Linked DNA regions of Homo sapiens. The protein of the gene in region 1 interacts with the protein of each later gene in a biochemical or structural test. Each region holds a gene or a part of one and is shown on either strand. Other genes may lie near its edges.

Region 1 (7,037 bases):
TAAAAAAAAAATGGGCTGGGAGTGGTGGTGCACACCTGTAGTCCCAGCTACTTGGGAGACTGAAGCACAAGAATCACTTGAACCCAGCAGGCAGAGGTTGCAGTGAGTGGAGATTGTGCCACTGCACCCCAGCCTGGGTGACAGAGTGAGAATGTGAGTCAAAAAAAGAAAAAAGAAAAATTCCTCATGACCTGGGGTTAAGGTTCCTAGACATGACACCAAAAACATGATCCACCAATGGCATGATGGATAAGACTTCATCAAAATTAAGTCTGTGCTTCAAAAGACACTATCAACAAAGTAAAGAGAGAATAGGAGAAATTACAAATCATATACCTGGTAAGAGACTTGTACCCAGAATATATAAAGACTCTTACTACCCAATAAGACAACTAAAAAAATGGGTAAATAATTTGAATAAACACTGCTTTAAGGAAGATACACAAATAGCCAATAAGCACAAGAAAGAATGCTCAACATAGTATCAGAGAATAGCAAACCAAAACTAGATAGAGATCCCATTTCATATCCACTAGAGTGACTAAAATCAAAATGTCAGGTAAACAAGTATTGGCAAGGATGCAGAGAAAATGGAACCTGCATACACTGCTGGTGGGAAAGTAAAAAGATGTAGCTGCTTTGGGAAACAATGACAGCTCCTCAAATGATTAACATAGTTATCATATAACCTAAAAATTCTACTCCTAGGTAAGAAATGAAAACACATATGCACATAAAGACTTGTACACGTTTATAGCAGCTTTAGTCAGGACAGCCAAAGGGTGGAAATACCCAAAATGTCCAACTTACAAATGTATAAACAAAGTGCTACAGCCATACAATGAAGTATTTTCAGACATACTAATGAATGTGCTGATACATGCTCGAATATAGATGAACCTCTTAAGACATGTAAAGTGAAGGAAGCCAGTAACCAAAGACCACGTATTATGATTCCATGTACATGAAATGTCCAGAATAAGGAAATCTATGAGATGAAAAGAGGTAGTATGGATGGCGGGGGATGACAGGAGAAGGATAAAAGCTAAACTATACAAGGTTTCTATCTGAGGTGATGAAAACATTCTAAAATTGATTATTGGAATGGTTGCATTTATCTGTGTATATACTAAAAGCTACTGAATTACACACCTTAAATGGGTGAAATGTATGTTGTTACAATAAAGCGTTTTTCTTAATTATATATGATCCCATTTATAACATGCTTGAAGACAAAAATATGGAGATGGGGATTAGATCAGTGGTTTCCAAGGTTTAGGGGCTGGGAGTAGGGTGTGTAGAGTACAAAGAGAGCACGAGAGTTTTTACGGTGATTGAACTCTTCAATACTCTGACTGTGGAGGTGTTTACACATATCTATACTTAAAATTCACCAAACCATACACCAAAAAAGTTAATTTTACTTTACTCAAAAAATTTTGTTAAATGTCAAAGAGAATAAAATTAAAAGAAAAATAGCCTCTTCCCCCGACAATTCATTCCTAAAATGAGCAAGATAGGAATCACAGGGTGAATGGACTGCCATGGCCTGGAGTGAGGTATTAGGGTCCAGGCAGGATGAGGAGGACATTCCTGCTCAGCATAGGATGCGAAGCCTAAGCAGGGTGAGGAAGACATTCATGTGGGGAGATGACCTACAATAGAGAATCAGGCCAGGCGCAGTGGCTCACACCTGTAATCCCAGCAATTTGGGAGGCCCAGGCGGGCGGATCACCTGATGTCCGGAGTTCGAGACCAGCCTGACCAACATGGAGAAACCCCGTCTCTACCAAAAATTAAAAATTAGCCAGGTGTGGCAGCGCATGCCTGTAATCCCAGCTACTTGGGAGGCTGAGGCAGGAGAATCGCTTGAACCCAGGAGGCGGAGGTTGCAGTAAGCCGAGATCGCGCGACTGCACTCCAGTCTGGGCAACAAGAGTGAAACTCCACCTTAAAAAAAAAAAACCCCACAAATAATCAAATAGGAATCAGGTTTCTCACTGGTACTGAAAACGGTTATAAATGTGGAGAAGGAAAAAATGAAAATGAAGCCCATGGGATCAGAATTTATATGTGAATTCATGGTTTTCAATATACATAGATGCAGAAATATAGATGTAAAGACATGCATTATATATACACACCAACGGCAATTGCACACTAGCACAGATCTTGGCTTTTAAATATTACTCACTAAAGAGAACCCAGGCTCTACGGAAAAATGGCTGATTCTTGGGTTAGGTCGAGGACAGCATGAGAAGCCTGGTATATCTTATGCCAGAGAGTAACAAATTCATTGAATAATGATGGGAATGTGTCAGAAGGACACAGAGGCCACCCAGAATGGACTTCTACCAGCCAAATGTACAATAATTTTGAGCACCAATGTAATGATAATAGGTTTTTTAACCTGCTGAATAAAATAGAAAATAATGAGTTTATAGAGATACGATAAATTTAAAGTCTGATCAGAAACAAGGTAGTATTTTGCAACTATCTTCTCAAGAAATAATTATAAAAATAACTACAGTGGAGAAGTCTGGCAGACACTACCTTAATCAGTCATCTAAGAAACACCATCAGAAATGAGACAAACTGAAATTATTAAACAATGACAGGATGCACTTCTATCACATTCCTGCCAAAGATGAATAACCTCAATCTAATCATGAAGTATCAGACAGAACTCAAAATAAGGGGTGTTCTACAAAACTAGCCCATAATTGTCAAAAGTACTAAGTTGTAAAAGGAAACAAATGAGAATTTGTTCCAGAATGAAGTAAACTAAAGACAGCTGACATCTAAATGAAAGGCATGATTCTGACTGGATCCTCTTGCTATATGGACATTATTGGGACAATCAGTTCAATGTGAATGAAGTGAAGATCTGAGGATTAGAGGGTAGTAATGTGTCAACGTAAATTTCCTGATTCTAATGGTTGCATTGTAGTCATGTAAGATAATTTGAAGCAGATAGTAATCAGTAATGAGGAATCATGTCTTCAACTAAATCACAAATGGTTCAGAAAGAAAAAAATTATCTGTAACTTTTCTATGCATGAGATTTAAAATTTTTTCAAGAGTTAAAAAGGGCAAAAAATAAAAAGGACATAAATAGGATATTGAATAAAATGTCTATAGACAATTCCTACCTATATGCCTAAATCACTTACAATCAAAATGATGCCACTGATATACAATTAGTGACCTTACTTTGCTTTCTGCCACAAAGGACTCACCTAATTACCATGATCACACTTCTCTTTTGTGTTAATCCACTTCTATTGTTAGGGTTTTAACTATTTTTAAACTTCTTGACATAAAGTAATCCCTCAAGTAATAATATTCTAATTAAGAAATTTACATTAACTCTTAATTTACTTAAAATACATTTATGGACTTTTTCCTTTATTAAAATTGTTTTCAGCACTATAATTTTGTGTGAATTGTTATACTTAGACAAAGGGGTACACAATTCCTATTTAGAAAATTTTATTGAATATCATACTTATCAAAAGAAAAAGTTAATTTTCCCCAAAGGCACCCTTCATTTCACATGATCTATACTCTAATGTTCTTTTGTATTAAAAATATGGTTAAATATGGAATTAGTAAAATGCAGCATATAAAACTTCATGCTGAGCAAAAACAAGTCCAAAACAACTTTACCATATATCCATAGAATAGTTCCCACAGTACATTTCCTATGTAAATTATGTTTGAATGCAATTTTTAGAACCATTTTAAGATACATTTTGCAATCTGTTAACTGTAGGCATCCGCATTTTTCTTCCATTACATAATCTGTTTATCTGATTAAGTTGGCAATATCTGCTAGGATCCACAGAATGCAGGAAAAAAAGCAGTTATTTCTCAAGGTTTGAGAAATCTGGTCCACCTTTAGTGTAGTTTCCTGAGATTTCTGCTCCACTGAAGTCAAAACCAGGATTCTAAAAGATACAAACATATATATAATGAAATAAAACTTATAAGGAAAAATACAAGTACAAACTGGCAATTGATAAAAAAGGATATATAAATGACCAATAAATACATGAAAATATAACAGACTTCACTGTTACCACCAAAGTAATATTTAAAATTATGAGGCATTTTTCAACTCTCCCAGTTACAAATATTTAGACATCATATGTACACTACAATGTTGGCAAGTGTATGGGGAAACATATACTTCAATAAAAGTCTGTAGTTATATTTAATAGCTAGCATTTTTATTTTATTTATTATTATTTTTTTTGAGACGGAGTTTCGCTCTTGTTGCCCAGGCGGGAGTGCAATGGTGCGACCTCAGCTCACCATAATCTCTGCCTCCCAGGTTCAAGCGATTCTCCTGCCTAAGCCTCCCGAGTAGCTGCGATTACAGGCATGTACCACCATGCCTGGCTAATTTTGTATTTTTAGTAGACACGGGGTTTCTCCATGTTGGTCAGGCTTGTCTTGAACTCCCAACCTCCGGTGATCCGCCTGCCTCAGCCTCCCAAAGTGCTGGGATTACAGGCGTGAGCCATGGCGCCCAGCCTATAGCTAGCATTTTTTGAGAGCTTTCTATATGCCACACAAATTTCTAAGAGCTATACATATATAAGATATTTAACCCTCACAACAGTCCTGTGAAGTACTATGTCAGGCCTTAGTCTTTTTGGTGGGCTATTTCGTTTATCCAACAAACATTTGTTGAGCTCCTACTGTTTGGGAGACCATTAGAGGTATGTAGAATTCAAGAGTGAAAAAAAACAAAAATCCCTGCTCTAGTGGAACTTAACATTCTAGCAGGAGGAGACAAACCATAAATCAACCAGTACAGGGGCTGGCAGACTTTTTAAAAACTAGGTAGTAAATATGTTAGGCTTTGCAGTCCACATAGTCTCTGTCACAAATACTCAACTGTCTGAAAGACAATATACAAACAAATGAGCATATACGTATCCTAGAAAAGCTATAAAACAGGTAGTGGGCCAAATTTGGCCCAAGGGCTGTAGTTTGCCAACCGCTGATGTCGTGTTAAAAGTTGGTAAGTGACACAGAAAAAAAAAAAAAACAGGATAAGGGAAATAAAATTATATTTAAATGGGATGATCAAAGTATGCTTCATTGAGCAATGATATGAAAACATAAAAGTTAGCCAAACTGTGGGAGAAGAGCATTGCAGTCAGGATAGCAAAGGGATGGGCTGACATGTTCTTTAAGGAACAGCAAACAGGCCAGTATGGCAAAAGCAGAATCACTAAGAGGGATAGCTGTAAGGGAGGAGGTAATCAGGGAGATGATGGAATAACTGATCAGAAAGGGCCGAGAAATGACTTGCAGAGTTCTGAGAAGTGGCATGATGTGACTTGGATTTTAAAAGAACTGCTCTAACTGGCTGGGCGCGGTGGTTCACGCCTGTAATCCCGGCACTTTGGGAGGCCAAGGCGGGCGGATCACGAGGTCAAGAGATTGAGACCATCCTGGCCAACACGGTGAAACCCCACCTCTACTAAAAATACAAAAAAATTAGCCGTGCGTGGTGGCGGGAGCCTACAGTCCCAGCTACTCGGGAGGCTGAGGCAGGAGACTGGCGGGAATCCGGGAGGCGGAGCTTGCAGTCAGCAGAGATCGCACCACTCCATCTCAGAAAAAAAAAAAAAAAAAGAACTGCTCTAACTGCTATTTTGAGAAGACTATGGCAAGAGTAAAAGTGAGAAGACCAATTAGAACGTTATTAGAGTAATCAGGCAAGACATTAGAGGTGGTCCAGATCAGAATGGTGGTAGAGTTGGTGGTGAAAAGTGGCCAAATTCTAAATATATTTCGAAGGTAGCATCAGTAAGATTTCCTAATACATTGGATAGGGTATGAGAAAGATGTAAGAATCAAAGATGAGTCCCAATTTTTTTTGACCTGAACTACTAGTTTTCATCAACTGAGATGAAAAGGCTACAGGTAAAAACAAATATGGAAGGATGTTAGGGTGTTCAACTTGGACATGTTGAGCTTAATATACATTAGATAGCCAGGTGGAGATGTTGAATAGGCAACCGGGTATGCAGGTCCTAAATTCAGAAAAAAAGTCTAGGCTAGAGATATACATCTGGAAATCATTATCATAAAGACGTACATTATCAAGTGCTGCAATCTAGCAATTCCTCTCCTAGATATTTATCTTAAAGATATCTTAGAACACTTGAGTAGTTTCACAGAGATGAAAGCACAGCTTTCTTTAAAATAGAGAAAAATGAAGAAATCTAAATCATATCAAAGGCAAACAGCCAAATAATGATGACACATCCAAACTACAGAATCCTCTGAAGCAGTTAAAAAGAATGAGTTTTATACCTATGTATTAGTAGGGAAAGAGACCCACAGCATATTATTAAATAAAAAAGCAACAAGAAGAACAATACACACAGTGTGATCCTCCATTTATGCTAAAAAACAAAACAAAACAAGCAATAGCCAACATATGAGATGAAAATGAGATAGATGCATGGAATGGGGAGAATGGTGGTGAAGGGGCCTTTCACTTTTTACACTAGGTAAGTCTATATTGATTCAACTATAGTAAGAGTTTATTCATGCATTACTGATGTACATAAAAGTAAGCTTAAACTCACAAATCACAGCAATACAAATAAATTCCTCTCAAGAAAATCTTCCGAAAAATCAAATCCATACAAGAAAGGCCATTTTTCTAACAATTCACTTTAAAAATTCTTCTAGAAAATGTTTGTAACTTTTCATAATGACATTTGAGTTTTAATTTCAAATATTTATTTGATGATTTTTATATATTTAATTACACATACTCATACACTTCATCTGACTTACTTCTTTTTGGAATCTCTCTAATGTAAGCTTTCTCTGCATTTGGTCTTGCACCCAAGGATCCGCTGCATATTCAGATTCTAGTAGAGAAGTCCAACAATTTGCTGCATCTCTCTTTGTCTTTGTAAGAACAATACGAACCATTTTTCTGTCCTCTAAAAAAAAAACACACACACACACACGCACAAATAAATTAGAGTTCTTCATCAAGT
Region 2 (6,225 bases), on another chromosome or scaffold:
AAGCTGACCCAGATAGTGTCCACTTTTTTAAATTTTTTTATTTATTTATTTTGAGACAGAGTCTCACTCTCGCCCAGGCTAGAGTGCAGTGGCACAATCTTAGCTCACTGCAACCTCTGCCTCCCGGGTTCAAGCGATTCTCCTGCCTCAGCCTCCTGAGTAGCTGGGATTACAGGCACACACCACCACGCCCGGCTAATTTTTTTTGTATTTTTAGTAGAGATGTTGGCCAGGCTGGTCTTGAACTCCTGACCTCAGGTGATCCCCCTGCCTCAGCCTCCCAAAGTGCTGGGATTACAGGCGTGAGCCACCGTGCTCGGCCTTGAACCAAGGTTTCTAAGATGCTCTTAGCCTCCTTGGATCTGGCCTAGCCCACCTTTCCATCTTAGCTTTTCTGCACAACCGCCCACAGCTAGCTCAGCCTACGCCTCAGCCAATCTGGTTCCCGACGATGCAGAGCCGGCATTGGCTGCAGAAGCCAGGCCTAGTCCTGTCCAGGGCCCCCTGGCCGCAGACAAATGCTACAGACACGGCTCGTAGCACATGGTTCTCTTTATTGTGATGCTCAGTGGAAAACATCTGTAAACCAGCTTACTGTAGTGGTGACAGCTGCAACACATGCTAAGGCACTTTTATTATATAAAAAAGGGGGTAGGGTGGGAGTTTCACTCACTCCTTTGTGACAGCAACTGGGACCTGAATTCAGAGCTTTGTAGGCATATGCAGCTTTTATATCACTTCATGATTTGAGAGTTTGTTTCCTTTAAAAAAAAAAAATGCCTTCTTGCCGTAAGTCTCAATGCAGCATATACAAAACAGTTAGGAATACAAGTAAATTCGGCAACCAGTGTAGACCAGTGAGGACGAGCTACTCTCTTCTAAACAAAGGCAGTGAGAAAGACTCGGAATTTTATCATTTATTACAAGAAAGGGGAAAAAAGAAAACCTTATTTTGCTTTCAAAAATACCTGTGCAGGTGGCAGATTTTTAAACTATACTGAGTCAACGGTGCAGGTAAACCACCCTCGGGCCCAGTCCTAGAGTAGACACAAGATCGCCTGGGAGGGCCGCTGGCCCCTCTAACGCTCTGGCTGTCAGACTTGGGACAAGTCCCTTAACCATTAAATATATTTGGTCCCCAAGAGTGTTGGGAGAAGCCACTGGAAGGCTGCTGGCCTTTCCAGCTTGACCCCGACAGCCTTGCTGTGGCAGAGGCAGGCTGTCCTCGGTAAAGGAGGGGAGGGGGCATTGCACTTGAGACATTTTAGAATCAGGAGGGAGACAGCGGACAGTGGCGCTGCCTGGGACAGGGTGGGGAGGAATCCACTCCTCCCCCCACCCCAGCCTTCTGTGCCCTGCACAGAGGTGGAGGCCCAGGGCCTGCTCCTTCTGGACCGCCCAGAGCCATGGGAGTGGGAGGCCCAAGGGGCAGAGGTGTGTGAGGTCACCACGTGTGATTGCAAACAGCAAAGAAAGGAGGAGGAGTGGGGGCGCTGGTGGCAGACGTCAGGGAGGCTGACGACTGCGGGGGCTCCGACTACCAAAAGGCCTCAGTCTGAAGAAAAATAGATTCATAGAAAACTCTGGCCCCTCCCCGGGGGCCTGCCCTGCTCGCCTCAACATCTTGTGCTTTTTGGCAAGAGAGGGCTGAGGAGCCTGCTGGTCGCTCTCTGCCTGGGCCCGGGCCCTGTCTCTTTGGTATCAGATTCTGAGCAGGGGAGGGAGCTGGAAGGGGATGCAGCAGAGGAAGCCAAATGCCCTCAACAACACCTGGAGGGAAACGGGATGGGGGGACGGGGCGGAGGGCAGGAGGAGGCATGTTCACAGCAGTCCCAAGAAGGTGGGGAGAGGCGTGCTGCGGGGTCTGGGAAGGGGAGGCTGTGGTGTCTGTCTGTCCATCCATCTCAGGCTGCAGGAGAAGAGGCTTATTCGGCAGGTTTGGCCTCAGCCCCATCCGCTTTGCCATCTACCTCTTCGTCGGAGCCATCCCCGGCGCCTTTCCGGGCCATTCGGCGGGGCACGACAAACGGCAGGTCCCCGCGCCTGGGGGCAGAGGTAGAAGCAGAGGGTCAGCGGGCCCGGCCAGGCCAGGGGCGGCCACAGCACAGCCCACACATCTCAAAGTGAATTCGAGAGGGAAACCAGGTGCCTGGCTGCTCCCACCAGAAAGAAGCAAAGTGGAGTCTTGGGAGCCACAGCTGAGCTAGACAGGACCACTCTCAGGAAAGCAGGCAAAGCTTCCCGCAAAATGTTTAGGTGTCGGACATCTTCACACACAACAGTAGCACAAAAACAGCTCAGGCAAACAGGACCAATTACAACAGGAAAGGCACAAAAGTAAGTGTAAAATGCCATCCTCTGTTGCAACTCCTATAAAACCGGTGAAACCAAGACAGGTAAACAGGTGTGCCTGTTCACACAGAGTACAAAGACAGGCACCCTCTTTCTACCACATGGCAGAAAATTCATATACAATACTGACTACTTATGCTTACAAAAAGAGCCCCATGAAGGCCTGGCACGGTGGCTCATCCTTGTAATCTCAGCTCTCTGGGAGGCCGAGGCGGGTGGAGCACCTGAGGTCAGGAGTTTGAGACCAGCCTGACCAACATGGTAAAACCCCGTCTCCACTAAAAATACAAAAATTAGCCGGGCATAGTGGTGCATGCCTGTAATCCCAGCTACTCCAGGGGCTGAGGGAGGAGAATCGCTTGAACCCGGGAGGCAGAGGTTGCAGCAAGCCGAGATTACACCATTGCACTCCAGTCTGGGCAACAAGAGCGAAACTCCGTCTCAAAAAAAAAAAACAAAAAAAATAAAAAAAACACGTAAACACATAAGAAAAAAACATGTAAGAAATGAGTATCTCAAAAAACACAAAATGAGAGTCTCAAAAAACCCACAAAAAAACACGTAAGAAATGAGAATCTCAGAGAATAAGATCCTCTGCTTCAAACATTCACTACTTCTTGAGTGTTAACACTCCCTGAGAAACGCAAAGGAGCGTTTTTAACCTCTGTAGGCATTGCTCATGAGGCTCACATTCGTTTTGCAGATATTTAACTGAGGCACCTAACATGTGCCAGGACTGGGCCAGGTGGCCTCAAGCAACTTCCAATTCAAAAGACAATAGACTTTTAGGACAGCTGGGAATAAACTACCTAGAGTTTACTGTGTGTTCAAAACACTAAGCTAAAGCCTCAAAGGCAAGGAGCCAGAAGGGGCAGGGATTGCTTTGTGCAGTCCTTTCTTGGTGACATTCGTGCCTTGCTTGTGGGCTCTGGTTGAGGAACAAGCTACCTTTTGAGAGAAGTGCCGAGGCAAAGGGGCGGGTGGGCAGGGCGGCTCACCTGAGCTTGTTCTTTAGGGAGCTGACTTCGCGGTTCATGGCATCGGCCGTCTCAGTGGCGTCCTCCAGCTCGCGCTGCAGTTTCCGGCGGGAGGCGTTGGCCCGCTGGGCCTCCTCTTCGGCCTCCTCCAGCTGCCGCTTGAGCTGCTTCAGGCGGGTAGATGCCTTGTCGGCCTGCGGAGATGGACGTGTGGCCCGTGGCCCCGGTTAGGGGCTCTGGGCGTGCAGCCAGTCAGCCCCACTGCCCTGCCTGTCACCCCATCTGCTGCCCAGCCCCGCTGCCCTTCTCACTGCCCCACCAGCGCCCACACCTGGTCCTTGTACTGCTCGGCGTTCCTCCGCTCGTCATCCACCTGCAGCAGCACATCCTTCAGCTTCTTCTCGGTCCGACGCACCTGTTTGCAGGCTGCCTGGCGCTCCCTGCATGACAGACAAGGTGGCTCAGAGGGAACACCCTCCTTCAGAGGGTCCGGCCAACAAGCCCTAACCAGGACCACCCATTCCCCGGGGCTCACTGGCATCTAGGGATCACGTAGGGAGGCCTTTGCTAGACACCTATGTGTACCCGGCTTCTTACGACGGGCACTGCAAATAGCCCCATTTACAGATGAGGAAATGGGCTCAGGTAAGGGAAGCGACACACCTCAAAGAGCATCTATGTAACTGGAAAAGAGGTCTGGGGGCCTACTGTAAACCCCATTCCCTCCAAGGAAGTCTCAGTCCTGCTGAGCCCATAGGACAACTGTCCTAGTGGGCAGGACCCCCCTGTACCTCCTGCTCTGATTCACTCTCAGACACAGCCACCAAAACTCCTGGCTTTAGAGGTGGAACAGAGAATCCTGTTCAAACCCCACAAGCTCCCCCAACCACCCAACCTGTGGAAGGGATGAGGGCCCCATCAGGAGGGAGGGAAACAGCCCCAGGCTCAGGAGACAGAGAGCTGGTTGTGGCCCAGATTTGGGCAGGACTGCAGGGGGGCCAGAGTTTTTTCCAGGACAGCTGGGGTTGGGCGGGGCCAGGGGCACGTACTTGGTCTCGTTGTCCAGCTGCTCCTCCAGCTGTGCAATCTTGGCCTCGAGGGCGGTGATGGAGGCCTTGTACTTGGACTTGACAGTGCCCTCCATCTCCTGCAGCTTGACCTTAAGCTCCTTGTTCTGGCGTTCCAGCTGCTGCCGAGCATTCTCGTTCTTCTGGGCGTGGCTGCGCTCCAGGTTCAGGTCGGTGTTGATCTGGTCGATCTGCAGAAGAAGGGCCAGTGACCTTGGGGAGGGCTGGGGCCCTGGCTGGAGGGCATGAGCAGGGCCAGAGGAAGGTGGCAGCAGGATCCCACCAAACCCTTGGGGTCCAGAGTCTTGGGTCTCCCAGAAAAGGGAAGATTAGAAACTTCTGAACACCCAACACAGAAGCCAGAGGGGGACCTTTCAGGTCCAGGTGCCTGGACATTTTCCCCTAAGCGCCTGGGGAGCAGCTGGCACTTGGCCTGTGCTTCTGCCGGCTGGGTCCAAGGCCAGCTCTGCCGTGGTGGCTCCAGCCAGAGCCCAGAGTGGGAGAAGTCCTGGCACCCACCTGCAGGTTGGCCTTCTTCAGCCGGTCGTTGATCAGCTCCGTGTTGCCCTGCTCCTCCTCCAGCTCCTCCTCCAGCTGGGCGATGCGGGCCTCCAGACGCCGCTTCTCCTCTAACGCCAGGGCTCTGCGGGGTGGGCGGGAGAAGTGAGGGGCCTACCCTGGGGACACACCTGGTCCCCCCCAACTCTGCCCCCTCACTCAGCTCACCCTTTGCCGCTGCTGTTGGCGATCTCGTCAGCCAGCTCATCCCGCTCCTGCTGGGCCTGGCGCTTGGCACGCTCCGCGGCTGCCAGTTCCTGCCACAAAGACCCAGAGTGTGACCTAAAGGCAGCCACAGCCCCACAAGACCATCCTTCCCAGCCCCAGGCACCCTCCCCTCAAGCCCTTCCCCAGGCCCACCTCCCCACGAAGCCCTTCCTCCAGAAACCCTCTAGCTCACAGGGCTGGTGCCCCCCTGAAGATATAGCTTAAACACCATATGTTTATAAAACTCTTACATTTAAGTGCTAGGAATCAAGCCAGGTGCCAGGGTATGGCGATAAGTAAGAAGTGTCCTGGCCTAACCAGGGAGACCACGTGGACAGAGTCACTCAGGGCGGCCCCTCCCTGTTCTGGGTAAGCCAGAGCTTGGAGTCAGCTCTGGAGGCCACAGGCAGATGGCTACACCCTGGACGCACTCGCAGCCGGCACATCACGCTGCAGGGCACCCTCCAGACCTGGGAAACACTTCAGGACGGGCTCAGGTGCGACGGGCAGGGCGGCCGAGGGGACGCTCAGACCCCTTCTCACCAGGCAGCATTCACAGCAGGAGGTGGTGGTGGCCACAAAGCCTCATCTCATGTGAGGGATGCCAGTTTCACACACACACACACTCTGATCATACGAGGGAGCCCCGCTATGAAACGGAACCCTGGAGGGAATCCTTATGTAACCTGAGAGCCATCCCCAGCCAATTCCTGGAGCCCAGTAGGACTCCAGCCCTGTCCTCAGCTGAAAGCCCCACGCTGCCACCTGCTGGCCGCAGGGCAGCGGTGCCGCTCTCCATTGCAGCCCCACCCACCTCCTGCAACTGGATCATCTCGGCCTCCATGCTCTTCAGCTTCTTCTCGTTCTCTTTGGCCTGGGCCAGGATCTCCTCACGAGAGGCGCGGGTGTCATCCAGCTCGCGCATGCAGTCCTTCATCTGGGCCTGGGGTGGGGACAGAGGCTTGGCACCCCACCCAGCTCCTTGGCCCTCCACCCCAACCCTCATGGGTCACCTCGCCAACAGGGCTCATGGCTGGTGCTCCACTCAATGCTGTATTTAACCA

What was found. Proteins that work in one complex are often made in the same cells at the same time.
Region 2: the proteins of NUDCD2 (region 1) and MYH9 form a complex in vitro, tested with the Homo sapiens proteins (one study listed by BioGRID).

Annotation. Positions count from the first base shown.
Region 1 is NC_000005.10:163,450,101-163,457,137, forward strand, and holds part of NUDCD2 (nudC domain-containing protein 2), read right to left. Parts: intron 6,981-7,037; coding exon 6,829-6,980; intron 3,951-6,828; coding exon 3,867-3,950; 3' UTR 1-3,866. UniProt on the Homo sapiens protein: May regulate the LIS1/dynein pathway by stabilizing LIS1 with Hsp90 chaperone.
Region 2 is NC_000022.11:36,280,743-36,286,967, forward strand, and holds the end of MYH9 (myosin-9), read right to left. Parts: intron 6,166-6,225; exon of another isoform or gene 6,105-6,165; coding exon 5,976-6,104; intron 5,212-5,975; coding exon 5,123-5,211; intron 5,040-5,122; coding exon 4,916-5,039; intron 4,588-4,915; coding exon 4,379-4,587; intron 3,770-4,378; coding exon 3,661-3,769; intron 3,524-3,660; coding exon 3,351-3,523; intron 2,044-3,350; coding exon 1,926-2,043; 3' UTR 538-1,925; downstream 1-537. UniProt on the Homo sapiens protein: Cellular myosin that appears to play a role in cytokinesis, cell shape, and specialized functions such as secretion and capping. Required for cortical actin clearance prior to oocyte exocytosis. Promotes cell motility in conjunction with S100A4.